Linked DNA regions of Homo sapiens. The protein of the gene in region 1 purifies or fractionates together with the protein of each later gene. This does not show direct contact. Each region holds a gene or a part of one and is shown in the gene's direction. Other genes may lie near its edges.

Evidence for each region.
Region 2: the proteins of WDFY1 (region 1) and FAHD2A fractionate together in Homo sapiens (co-fractionation; one large-scale study listed by BioGRID). This does not show direct contact.
Region 3: the proteins of WDFY1 (region 1) and SIRT5 purify together in Homo sapiens (affinity purification with mass spectrometry; 2 studies listed by BioGRID and IntAct, with this or other methods). This does not show direct contact.
Region 4: the proteins of WDFY1 (region 1) and TPD52L2 fractionate together in Homo sapiens (co-fractionation; one large-scale study listed by BioGRID). This does not show direct contact.

Annotation. Positions count from the first base shown.
Region 1 is NC_000002.12:223,874,848-223,877,091, reverse strand, and holds the end of WDFY1 (WD repeat and FYVE domain-containing protein 1), read left to right. Parts: 3' UTR 1-1,744; downstream 1,745-2,244. UniProt on the Homo sapiens protein: Positively regulates TLR3- and TLR4-mediated signaling pathways by bridging the interaction between TLR3 or TLR4 and TICAM1.
Region 2 is NC_000002.12:95,412,708-95,414,911, forward strand, and holds part of FAHD2A (oxaloacetate tautomerase FAHD2A, mitochondrial), read left to right. Parts: coding exon 1-57; intron 58-187; coding exon 188-250; 3' UTR 251-1,258; coding exon of another isoform or gene 1,259-1,338; 3' UTR 1,339-1,476; coding exon of another isoform or gene 1,477-1,525; 3' UTR 1,526-1,574; coding exon of another isoform or gene 1,575-1,632; 3' UTR 1,633-2,204. UniProt on the Homo sapiens protein: Tautomerase that converts enol-oxaloacetate, a strong inhibitor of succinate dehydrogenase, to the physiological keto form of oxaloacetate. It is thereby required to maximize aerobic respiration efficiency by preventing succinate dehydrogenase inhibition.
Region 3 is NC_000006.12:13,595,101-13,598,600, forward strand, and holds part of SIRT5 (NAD-dependent protein deacylase sirtuin-5, mitochondrial), read left to right. Parts: intron 1-376; coding exon 377-464; intron 465-1,862; coding exon 1,863-1,916; intron 1,917-2,627; exon of another isoform or gene 2,628-2,764; intron 2,765-3,500. UniProt on the Homo sapiens protein: NAD-dependent lysine demalonylase, desuccinylase and deglutarylase that specifically removes malonyl, succinyl and glutaryl groups on target proteins.
Region 4 is NC_000020.11:63,863,829-63,868,069, forward strand, and holds the start of TPD52L2 (tumor protein D54), read left to right. Parts: upstream 1-1,441; 5' UTR 1,442-1,537; coding exon 1,538-1,556; intron 1,557-4,241.

The DNA of each region.
Region 1 (2,244 bases):
AACATAGACTTGTCTTCAGAAATAAGACTGAAGGGTTTTGTTGTTCCTTAGAGTTTTCGTGTTACATCACCTAAAGAGATTTCTTTTAAAAACTTTCTAGACTCTTTGCAAAATGTATATTACTAACATAGTTTGGAAGAAAAATTGAGTAGTGGTAAGTTTTGTTCAAGCACAATGTTGAATGTTAAGCTTCCTGTATTAATTTTAGTTCAGTTAATGGTTCAGCCCATACAAAGGTGCTATCCTAGGGATTTTATGAATTCCTGAAAGGAAAATAGAATATGATCAATTCCTTGCCCTGTGGAAGAGTGCAGAACTGTGGTTTTGTTTTCCTTTGACTTCTGTAAAATGTGACCGTTTGACATCTGTGGTAGATTGAACGGAATATCACAGCTGCTGAGTTTACTCCATAGCTTTCAAACCTTTTTTATTTTAAGAAATTCTTGAAAAACCCTATGTTCCATGGGAACATAAAGTTATTATAGTGCCTCCTAAGGGGTTAATATAAATCAAGGAGGAAGTTTATATTTAAGGAAGAATTGGAGTGACGTATCTTAGAAAAGGAAAGGCTGATGTTTCCATATAGCTTGCTCTCCACCAGGCCTATCATTTTTCTTTTTAGAGACAAACGTGACAGGCTAGTCTTGTCTCTCTCATATGCTAGGTAGCAAATGGGGTGATATTTTTATAGAAGTGGGCAAAAATTATTTTCTCAATTTTACTGAGTAGGCACAGAAGAAAAGTACAGATAGGCTGATGGTTATTGCCTTATTTTGACTGCATTTCTCTTAAATGGATCATTTAAATTAGTTCTTCAAGTAACAGTTTACTGGTTGTTCCATTCCTGAATATGCAGGCTAATTTGTACAGATAGGGATTAAGGAATACAGACTATTAGAGAAGATCCTTATATTTACATCTAGTATATATGTGGTAAGGAAATGCCGATTCTTCATTATAAACAAGTTTTAAAATTGTTCTTTCTTAGTTCAAATGATAGCAATACCCCTATAGCATTAGGTAGAAACAAATTATTCATTACATCGTAAATCTCTTTACTATGTCCTAGCTCTGTCCTGCTACCTAAAGGATATAAAGAAATACTATTGCTCTAGAATGTATTACTTTGTTCTCCCATGAAAGAATTCAGTTTGTTAGTACCTATATTTTTAAACTGGTGAAACTGACCCAAATATGTAATAAATACCATAGTAGCTCAGACCCAAGGAGATATTTTTCTAAAATCAGTTTTCGTTAAAGTACTTCTACTTCCGTTATTGGATATGGTATCTCCTAAAGTGTAAAAAAAATCTGTTACTATATAGTGATAAACCATCTGCTCATCGTAAGTGTAAGGCTTAACAAATAAGTAATACATGCTATATTTATTCAAGTGTCTATTGCTTAATTGTTAATTGTGAGCAGATTTATTGAATGCCTATTCTATTTTCTGCAGTTTACAATACAATAACTCTTTGAGTAAGTTGAAGTTTAATTGTGCAACAAATTTGTATTAGAGTACAATTTAAAGTGTTTTTCTCTATAGCCTTTTTTGACTGGGGAAGCAAGGGGTAATGTTAATTAGTACACTTTGTTCTTGTACTAGCTATGTTTCTATAAGATATGGTGCCCTGTGTATCCCAGAGATGCTAGAAAACTGTTCTTTGCTCCTATTTGTGGGTTCTGTTTTTGTGGGTTTTTTTTTTTGAGAAAATGTACACAATAAAACATTCCTTGCTTGTTACTGTGTTTGCCTAATATCACTTTTGTTGTAGTCAGCCTGGACGTAGGGCAATAACAGTAGCAACCATTTATTCAGCACCCTCTGTGTGCTGGGTGCTTTCACTACATTATCTTACTCAATCCTGGCAACACTTGGGCAAGGCATCATTCCTCCCATTTTACAGATGAGAAAACCAAGAGAATGTGTGTTATTAAGTCTGCCTTTCTGTCTTGAAAACACATGCCTTCTTCCTGCCTCTGGCCTGAATGTGCTAGCATGTCATTTGTGCTGTCTGTAAGGGTGGTGGGTATTACTGTCTCTGCCGCTTGAGGTAGCAGTCAGCATAGTGCAGGATATTTAGGCGCTCTGACTACACAGAGCTATCTAGTGATAACAAGATCAAGCTCTACTTCTCCTCAGCAGCTCAGTTTTGTGAGTGAACACGTGTGGTTCAGACCCAGAAGAACTGATACCTCAACTAAACCAGAGATTGATTTAGAAACCAGAAAGGCAGTGAATAG
Region 2 (2,204 bases), about 130 Mb from region 1:
CTAACTGGGACCCCCCCAGGTGTCGGTGTATTCAGGAAACCTCCTGTCTTTCTCAAGGTAGGTTAGCGAAAAGCAAAGAGCAAGGGCCCCAAAGGCCTGGCAGGCTTGCCTCAGACTTGAGAAGTACAGGCTTGTGTATGTGTGTCTGACGGAAGGGCTGACACTGTCATGGCCTGCTCTGTTGCAGAAGGGGGATGAAGTCCAGTGTGAGATTGAAGAACTAGGTGTCATCATCAACAAGGTGGTGTGATGGCTCCTGCACAGGCCCTGCACATAGGATGAGGGCATCTGCTCCCACTCAGCCTAGCCCAGGGAAAGGCCCAGTGACAGGTGTGGACAGGTGCCAGCCCTGCAAGCCGCCTCTTCTCGGTAGAAGGGAGAAGGACAGAGCTCTCTTCAATAAATTCGTCAGGTCAAAGCAGCAGCTTTGCTTCTGCTGTTTGTCTTCTTTTGGGCTTTGTTTCATGGGACAAGTTGGGGCATTTTGTGGGACTGGGGAAGAAGAGAGCAAATACACACACATATGCCAAAAAGATGCTGCTGGGCTGGGGAAAAGACAATTCGTGTCGTCCCCTTGTTTATCACATCAAAGAAGGGAAAAAGCAAGAGATGGCAAGGGACAATCAAGCCTCAATGATTATATTTATAGCTAAGGGTTTGCAGCCTCCTCTCCATCTTCTGGCTCTAGGACACAGCTGTGTTCTGGGGCTCAGAAGTCTCAGCACAGGCTCCTTCTCACAGTTCTAGCTACAAGTGAACTGCCGGATGAACTGTTCTAGTTTTTCCTGATTGTCCAGGCTGGCAAAAGTAGGGGACAGGTGGAGCCTGGGGCCTGCAGGGCTCGGCGTCTGCTGCAGAACCTGGGCCATGGAAGATGGGCCGTGAGTGCACTCACCACAGGGACTGTGTCCACATGGCCCAGGGGCCAGGCCTGTCCCCCAGAAACCTGCCTTGAGACCTCTGACCCCTTAGGCCTCAGTGTTTGAGTGCAAATGCTGCCTCAAAGCAGCCCCAATACCCCACCTAGAAGGATGAGCCAGTGATTTGGGAGACCAAGAGGCAGGAAACCATCCCACCTTCTCCAACCCATCACCACGTCTATTGCTGGAAGACACCAAGTAAATCCCAGGGTCTTAATGAGGCACCATCAGGCCAGCCCTGTGGGGTGATGGGAACATAGCTGGGTTTCCCTGAGCCACTCTATTGGGGTGGGAGCAGGGGGACAGAAGATGGTGACACTGGCTCCTCTCACCCCTAGGTCTCTGAAGGTCCAGATAGCACTGATGGCAAGCTTTGGGTCTGCACACTCTGGAAAGAAGAGAGAAGTGAAGGCTCTAGGTAGGGAGGACAGGGAGACACTGGGCACAGGCTTCTCTCCTCTTGTTTAAAGAAGCCCAGGGAGGGATAGATCTCCGACTGGACAGAAGACTACTCTGCAGCCCGCCTTCCTAGAGTTGGGTTGTCACTGTCCGGCAGGGGGCAGCAGCCACCAGCAAACACCACTGCCTGCAGGAGCCTGGGCTGACTGGTTGGGACTCACCAAAGATCCCTTCTTCCTGGGCGGTGGCCTGCAGGAACTGGAACAGCTGTTGGAGAGGAGAAGAAAAAGAAGACATCAAAAAGAAAATCTAGTGCTGGGTGGATATAGAGTATGAAGATGTGGAGCTGGGAAAACAGAGGATGTGGTGGGATGGGGAAGGAAAGGTTGTGGAAGGCCTGCACCCCGTCTCAGTTCCTCCACTGCTTCGTCCCAGATTCTGTTTTTGTTTTCCTGAATCAGACTTAGTCTCCCTCCATTCTCCCGTCCCCTGTGTGCCCCCATCCTGGTCCTGCCTCACTGGACAGCCTCTCCGCGGCCTTCCTCCTCCCTGCTCCAGAATTCTACTTGGTGCCCCCCAACCCCACTCGACTCATTGTCCACCTGGCCTCTGAGGCCAGGCACCCTCATTCCCCTCTCCCACCCACCCCACCCAAGGAAGCCCAGCACAGACCATCTCATCTCACTCCACCATCACTTCTTTGCCAAATGCATTTCCAAACACCCTCATGAGCTTTGCTGATCTCTTTGCCATCTCTCCCTGCCCCACTCCGATGGCTCCTCCTGCCTGGTGAAGACTGCCCTGGGTATCCCAGAACTGAACCTGCAGCAGCCAGCACAGCTGACCTTGGGGCGATAAGCAGCCAGGGAAAGGCTTTCTTAAAAA
Region 3 (3,500 bases), on another chromosome or scaffold:
TTTATTTTTCCTCCAGATTATAAAGTCCTTGAGGGCATATGCTCTTGACTGGCTTAAGAGTACTGCATGCCTCTGTTTCCCATGAAAGCTAAAGCTAGGGTAGGCCCATTTGCTAAAATGAAGTATGGCTCAGTGTGGCGGTGCACACCTATAGTCCCAGCTGCTCAGGAGGCAAAGGTGGGAGGATCGCTTGAGCCCATGAGTTGGAAGCTGCAGTGAGCTATGATCGTACTGCTACACTCCAGCCTGGGTAACTGGGTGAGACCAAAACATGAAATGAAGTGTGAAAAATAAAGTATCTTATACCCTTTTAGACATGGAGAAGGTTGCTCTTGATTATACTAAATTCTGGATTTGCTTCATATGTATTTTTCAGGTAGCTTATTTAAAACTCGATGTACCTCTTGTGGAGTTGTGGCTGAGAATTACAAGAGTCCAATTTGTCCAGCTTTATCAGGAAAAGGGTAATTATACCACACTACAGAATAAGTATAGGTTGTTTTCTCCTTTAGGTTGAACATAAATGTGAGGAAATTGAACATTCATCAAAGATTCCCATGGATATTTATGAGAAATAAGACTAAATACAAGGCTGGGTGCAGTGGCTCATGCCTGTAATCCCAGCACTTTGGGGTTACAAGGTGGGGAGACTGCTTGAGTTCAGGAGTTCAAGACCAGCCTGGGCAACACAGTGAGAAACCTGTCCTACAAAAAAACAAAACAAAACAAAAAACCACAAAAATTAGCTGGGTGTGGTGGCACATGCCTGTAGTCCCAGCTACTAGGGAGGCTGAGGTGGGAGGGTTATTTGAGCCTGGGAAGTCAAGGCTGCAGTGAGCTGAGATCATGCCACTGCACTACAGCCTGGGTGACAGAGGGAGACCCTGTCTCAAAAAACAAACAAACAAACAAAAAAACTAAATATAGCCATGTGATAAAAGAAATATTTTGCTCACAACTTACAGTGTTAAGTGAAAACCACAGGGTCCTAAATTTGTACACACAATGAGTTCGTGTATCTGTATATAGTTAAAAGACCAGAAGAAAATACAACAAAATGTTAATAAGGAATATCAGGAGTGGAGGGATTATGGGTAATTTTTAATTTCTTCTTTATATCTTTCTGAATTTTCCTATATTTCTATTATGAACATGTACTATTATTACAATGAGGAAAAAATTTGAGGGTAGACACAATATTGAGAAAAATTCCACTCAGCCTTTTAAAAACAGTATAAATTGTATAAGGACTATATAATGTCATTGCAGAGGATACAAATGATGATGATGATGATGTATAAAGGTAAACATGAAGTTCCCCCTTGGCACACCCAGCCACTCCAGCCCTCCCCACACATGCATTCCCTCACTGGCAGTACAACCACTGGTGATTTTTTTTTTTCTGAGACAGGTTCTTGCTCTGTTTCCCAGGCTGGAGTACAGTGGCACAATCACACCTTACTGCAGCCTCCAACTCCTGGGCTCGAGCAATCCTCCTGCCTCAGCCTCCCAAGTAGCTAGGACTATAGGCACACATCACCACACTCAGCTAATTTTTGTATTTCTGGTAGAAATGCAGTCTTACTGTATTGCCGAGGGTTGTCTTGAACTTCTGGCCTCAAGCAGTCCTCCCACTTTGGCCTCACCAAATGCTGGGATTACAGGCATGAGCCACTGTGCCCAGCACCACTGGTAATTAATGGCTTGGGGTCCTTCCTTCTAATGCCCTTCCAAGTGAGCATGTATTAATTAGGAGTTTTATACCACATACTGCCAGGCAAATATACAAACTGAGTTATGTTGTTTCTTTATTTTTTATTATGCCAATAACAATCTTTCTTTTCTAATATTATTTACTTCAGTGCTCCAGAACCTGGAACTCAAGATGCCAGCATCCCAGTTGAGAAACTTCCCCGGTAGGTAGAAAACTCTGATTTGTACTGGTGTTCCAGGTTACCAAAACAAAAAAAAAAACAGACATCAAAACCTAAACATGTATTTGGCAAGACGCCTCTTAAATCAAATGCACAAATGTAAAAACCAGGCTTGATCTCTGAGACCAAAAGTGAAAGGACAAAGGATGAACCAAATTAGGATGAAAAGAATGATTTTTTTCCAACCTCTTTTTGCTTTGTGTTGTGGTAGGATCATTTGAGGTCGGGAAAGTTTCTGAAGCTGTCGTGCGACAGGTGGTTACCCAGTGTACAGAAAGCATAGGGGCTGACCTGTAACTGGTCAAATAACATCACTGGCATTATTAATCCAGGGTTAGGGAGGCAATGAAAGGACCTGAATAGGAGAGGTTACAGGACCAAACAGAATGTTCATAGATTAAAAAAAAAAAAAAAAAAAAGGAAGATTTTTATGCCAATTTTTCAAAACCAGGCATTAAAACAGCACTTCTATAACCTGTAATTGGATTAGAAGTTTTTTTGTTGTGTTTATTTTATTTTATTTTTTTTTGAGATGGAATCTCACTCTGTCACCCAGGCTGGAGTGCAATGGTACGATCTTGGCTCACTGCAACCTCCACCTCCTGGGTTGAAGTGATTCTTCTGCCTCAGCCTCCCGAGTAGCTGGGATTATAGGCGCCCGCCACCACGCCTGGCTATTTTTTGTGTTTTTAGCAGGGATGAGGTTTCGCCATGTTGGCCAGGCTGGTCTCGAGCTCTTGACCTCAGATGATCCACCCGCCTCAGCCTCCCAACATGCTGGGATTACAGGCGTGAACCACTGCACCCGGCTGGATTAGAGTGTTTTTAAGGTAAAATAAAACAGCACTTCTAAAAGTGTTTCATAGAACATTAATTTAATGTTACGTTGAGACATTACTTGAAAAAAACATGTTAGGCACTCAAATAAATATGGAAATGTTAGACTAAACAAAGTTAAAATATGTTTGCTTTACTGCAGGACTTTTTAGAGCATTTAATCCACATTGCTGCCTTCTAAAAAGTGGTTGTAATACGTATGTTAATGCTTTACTGGCTTATTTAACCACAGAACCTTTTAAATTTTCCTCATGAGGGTTTTAATTGCTAAATATTAAAAGTTTTCTTCTGAAGGAATAGGTAGACCTGGAGGATTCCTGTGATGCAGGAGATTACTATGATGAAAATGGTGTTTGGGGGATGGTTTTAGGAGGTGTATAGAAGGTAACCCTGAGGTAGGAGGGAGTGAAAGAAGAGAGATTTTTAGTAATGGACACAGGAAAGCTGGCTACATACTGGGCCAGAGAGACATGAACCTGAGAGAACATGAAAGGAGGTCATTGATGAAATTAGGGGATGCTTGGGGTGGGAGGCAAATCTGAGTCCAGTATGTCTCCCAGGTCTGGGTGGCTGTGAGCACAAATGTGAGCATAATGAATGAACTGGGAAAGCTTAGCTGAAACAATGTGTCAGCACATCAAGTACATACAGACAAGATAAAAAATAAGGACAGTTCTGCAGGGCGCGGTGGCTCATGCCTGTAATCCCAGCACTTTGGGAGGCCGAGGA
Region 4 (4,241 bases), on another chromosome or scaffold:
AAGAATCTCTGGAAAGAATGAAAGGCAGCAAATGGAGAAAACATTACTGAGAGCACGAGAGCAGGCTAAGGCCGTGGTGGTAAGGGACTCGGGCCTGTGCAAGAGTACCAGGAAGACACCTGTGGGAGGAGGTGGCCGGGTGAAGGAAGGGGCAGTGGGAGGAGCTTCCATGCCTAGGGACCAGTACCACCCCAGGCTGGAAGCCCAGAGTGGAGTCCTAGGACATCAGATCCTAAAGGGCTTGAATACCGTTTAAGGCTTTTCTTCCGGGAGCAAGTAGGAGCCAAAGAAGGGAAGTTGCGGGACTTGTTTTCGTGGGGCCAGTTGCCTGGTGGTTACGCGCCTCTCCTCTGAAGTCAGGCATCCTGTTCCAGAGTATCCTGGTTGCGCTTCAACTTGCGGAGTGACCTGGGGCAAGTGACTTTAACCTCAGCTTCCTCATCTGTGGAGTGGGGAGGGCGCAGCGCTGGTCGCCCTGAACAGGAAGTGAGACAACCTCGGGGTGCACACGCGCAGGCCCGAGCCGCAGGGTCCACGCCCGAGGCGAGGCGGCAGCGGCGCCTGCAGGGCGAGGGGACGAATCGCGATCTTTTTCAGAGTAACCCGCGTACAATAAAAAGTCCCCATGAAAAGGACAAACTAGCCAGGCGTGAGGGGCGGTGGCTCACGCCTGTAATCCCAGCACTTTAGGAGGCCGAGGCGGGTGGATCACCTAAGGTCAGGAGTTCTAGACCAGCCTGGCCAAGGTGGCGAAACCCCCGTCTCTACTACAAATACGAAAATTAGCCGGACGTGTTGGCGCGCGCCTGTAATTCCAGCTACTCGGGAGGCTGAGGCTGGAGAATCGCTTGAACCCGGAGGGCAGAGATTGGAGTGAGCTGAGATCGCGCCATGGCACTCCAGCCTGGGCAACAAGAGTGAAACTCCGTCTCAAAAACAAACAAAAAAGGACCAACTAAAAAAAGAATATAAATACAATAAATAACAGGACTTACGGGGGCAGGCTGACCCCTAAAGTAAGGGGTCGGGCTGGAAAGGATCTCAAGGGGTCAGAGTTTGAGCCGCCGAGGCGCGCGAGCCCCAGCACTCCTAGGCAGCTGCATCCGCCCCGGAAGATCCCCTGGGGCCCTGCGCTGGCTTTCCACAGCGCCATGTTGGACGGTCCTCCCACTTCCCACCTTCCCAGTCCTCCCGCTACTCTGACCGTTCTACCTGTGATTCTCGCTGGTGGAGTCAACCTGGAATGGATTCCCGCCGAACCACGCCTCCCTTTCCTGGTTCGCCCGCAGTTTCGGCCTATCAGGTTGAGTCGGGTAAACCAGGACGGGCCAAGCGGCACTCTCATTGGATATCACTGGTGGGGGCGGGAAGAAGGCGGAGCACGTGCCCGGGCGGAAGTAGCCGTCGCATCGCGGATTACGAAACGCCGCGGAGCTGAGGCAGTTCCGCTGGCTAGTGTGTACGCGGCGAGCTTCTCCCGGCGCCGCCCGCTCGGCTCCCATAGCGCCCGCGACAGCGGTCCGGACGCCGCCCGAACATGGACTCCGCCGGCCAAGGTACCTGCCGGGCCCGGCCCCTTCGCCGCAGATGGGCCCAGGCTGCCCGTTGTTCTCCGTCTCCCGGGGTCGCGTCTGCGACTCTCTGTCCTCTCGGTCTCGGTTCACCCACCCCGCGGCCCCTCTTCAGCTCCCGGGGCCACTGACCTCGAAGCTTATGATGGTCGTGGTGTGTTTTTTGCCCGCGGCCCAGACCGCTTCCTGGGCTCTCTCCAGCCGCCCTCCTGGTCTCCCCTGGGACCGTTCCGAGGTGTGGTTCCCTGGCGCCCGCCGTTGCTCCCGTAGTTTGGGTTCTGTCGCTCCCAGCAGGTCTCGCTTATGCCGCCCACCCCGTGCCCTGCTCTTGCTTGCTCTGCCACCCCCCGGTCCCTGCGCGGGGCCCTCGGGTTCACGCTGTCTGGCCCTGGACCCAGTCCGAGGTGTTGAGGGCGGCTCCCGAGCAGAGAAGGGGTCTTCGCGTTCAGCAGAGCTCCCCTTGGGCAGCAACTCTGCTCGGAGCTCAGCCTGCTTAGGGGTTGCCTCATGGAGAGGGGGTGGAGTGAGTCAGGGGCACACCCAGCATACCAGGCCTGTTTCCAGAACAGTCTCCCCAGAGCAGTATGAGATGGCCACTGAGGGGCGTGGAGCGAGCCCAGGAGATTAAAATCTTGAGAAGATGATAAAAGTCTGCCTTGCATTTTGGGGCTCTAGAGAGGGATGCTAAATTTCTTTCTTTCTTTCTTTCTTTCTTTATTTTTTTGAGACGGAGTCTTGCTCTGACGCCAGGCTGGAGTGCAGTGGCGCGATCTCAGCTCATTGCAACCTCGACCTCCCGGGTTCAAGCGATTCTGCTGCCTCAGCCTCCTGAGTAGCTGGGACTACAGGCACGCGCCACCAGGCCCAGCTAATTTTTGTATTTTTAGTAGAGGCAGGGTTTCACCATGTTGCCCAGGATGGTCTCGATCTCTTGACCTTGTGATCCGCCCGCCTCAGCCTCCCAAAGTGCTGGGATTACAGGCGTGAGCCACTGTGCCCGGCTACATATTAAGCTTTATAATTCCTAGGTGCTGCATTATTCTGGAGGGTGTTTTTTGTTTGTTTGTTTTTGTTTTTTTGAGATGGAGTCTCACTCTGTCGCCCAGGCTGGAGCGCAGTGGCTAGATCTCGGCTCACTGCAAGCTCCGCCTCCCGGGTTCACTGCCATTCTCCTGCTTCAGCCTCCCAACTAGCTGGGACTACAGGCGCCCGCCATCATGCCCGGCTAATTTTTTGTATCTTTAGTAGAGACGGGGTTTCACTGTTAGCCATGACGGTCTTGATACCCTGACCTCGTGATCTGCTTACCTCGGCCTCCCAAAGTGCTGGGATTACAGGCGTGAGCCACCGCGCCTGGCCTTTTTTTTTTTTTTTTTTAATTTTTTTTTTGGGGACAGCGTCTCCCTCTGTCTCCCAGGCTGGAGTGCAGTGGTGCAATCATAGCTTACTGCAATCTTCAACTCCTGGGCTCAAGCGATCTTCCTGCGTCAGCCTCCCAGGTAGCTGGGACTATAAGACTACAGGCGCACCATGCCAGGTTAATTGGTCTTTCTACTTTTTTTTTTTTTTTTGAGACGGATTTTCGCTCTTGTTGCCCACGCTGCAGTACAATGGCGCGATCATGGCTTCCCGCAACCTCTGCCTTCTGGGTTCAAGCGATTCTCCTGCCTCAGCCTCCCGTGTAGCTGGCATTACAGGCGTGCGCCACCATGCCCGGCTAATTTTGTATTTTTAGTAGAGATGGAGGTTTCTCCATGTTGGTCAAGCTGGTCTCGAACTTCTGACCTCAGGTGATCTGCCCGCCTTGGCCTCCAAAAGTGCTGGGATTACAGGTGTGAGCCATTGTGCCCAGCCTCATTTGTCTTTTTTTAAATAGAACAGAAAGGCTGGGCTCGGTGGCTTACGCCTGTAATTCTAACACATTGGGAGGCCGAGGCCAGTGGATCACTTGAGGTCAGGAGTTTGAGACCAGCCTAACCAACGTGCCAAAACCCCGTCTCTACTAAAAATAAAAAAATTAACCGGGCATGGTGGTGTGCTCCTGTAGTCCCAGCTACTTGGGAGGCTGAGGCAGGAGAATCGATTGAACCCAGGAGGTGGAGGTTGCAGTGAGCGGAGATCGTGCCACTGCACTCCAGCCTGGGTGACAGAGTAAGACTCGTCTAAAAAAAAAAAAAAGAGAATCAGTGGATAAAAAAGTGGATACGCTTCGTTTAGTAAGCGTTTGTGGAGCGCCAAGGAAGTGCACACGGCTCCAGTCCTATGGGACATTTGAAGGGAGTGAGATGCAGCCAGCTTTTAAGAAGAGTATCTTTGTTAAGTGCATTTAATCTGGTGTCTTTGTGTTGTCTTTTAAAAGGCATAGTTTTTTTTTCTTTTTCTTTTCTTTTGTTTTTTTTTTTTGAGACAGTCTCAAAAAAAAGAGACGGGGTTTCACCATATTGGCCAGGCTGGTCTTGAACTCCTGACCTCAGGTGATCCGCCCGCCTCAGCCTCCCAAAGTGCTGGGATTACCGGCATGAGCCACCCCGCCCGACCAGTTTTTCTTTTTTTTTTTAAAGAATTTTTTTTTGGCCGCGCGTGGTGGCTCAACGCCTGTAATCTCCCGGGTTCAAGTGATTCTCCTGCCTCAGCCTCCCAAGTAGCTGGGAACTACAGGCGCGTGCCACC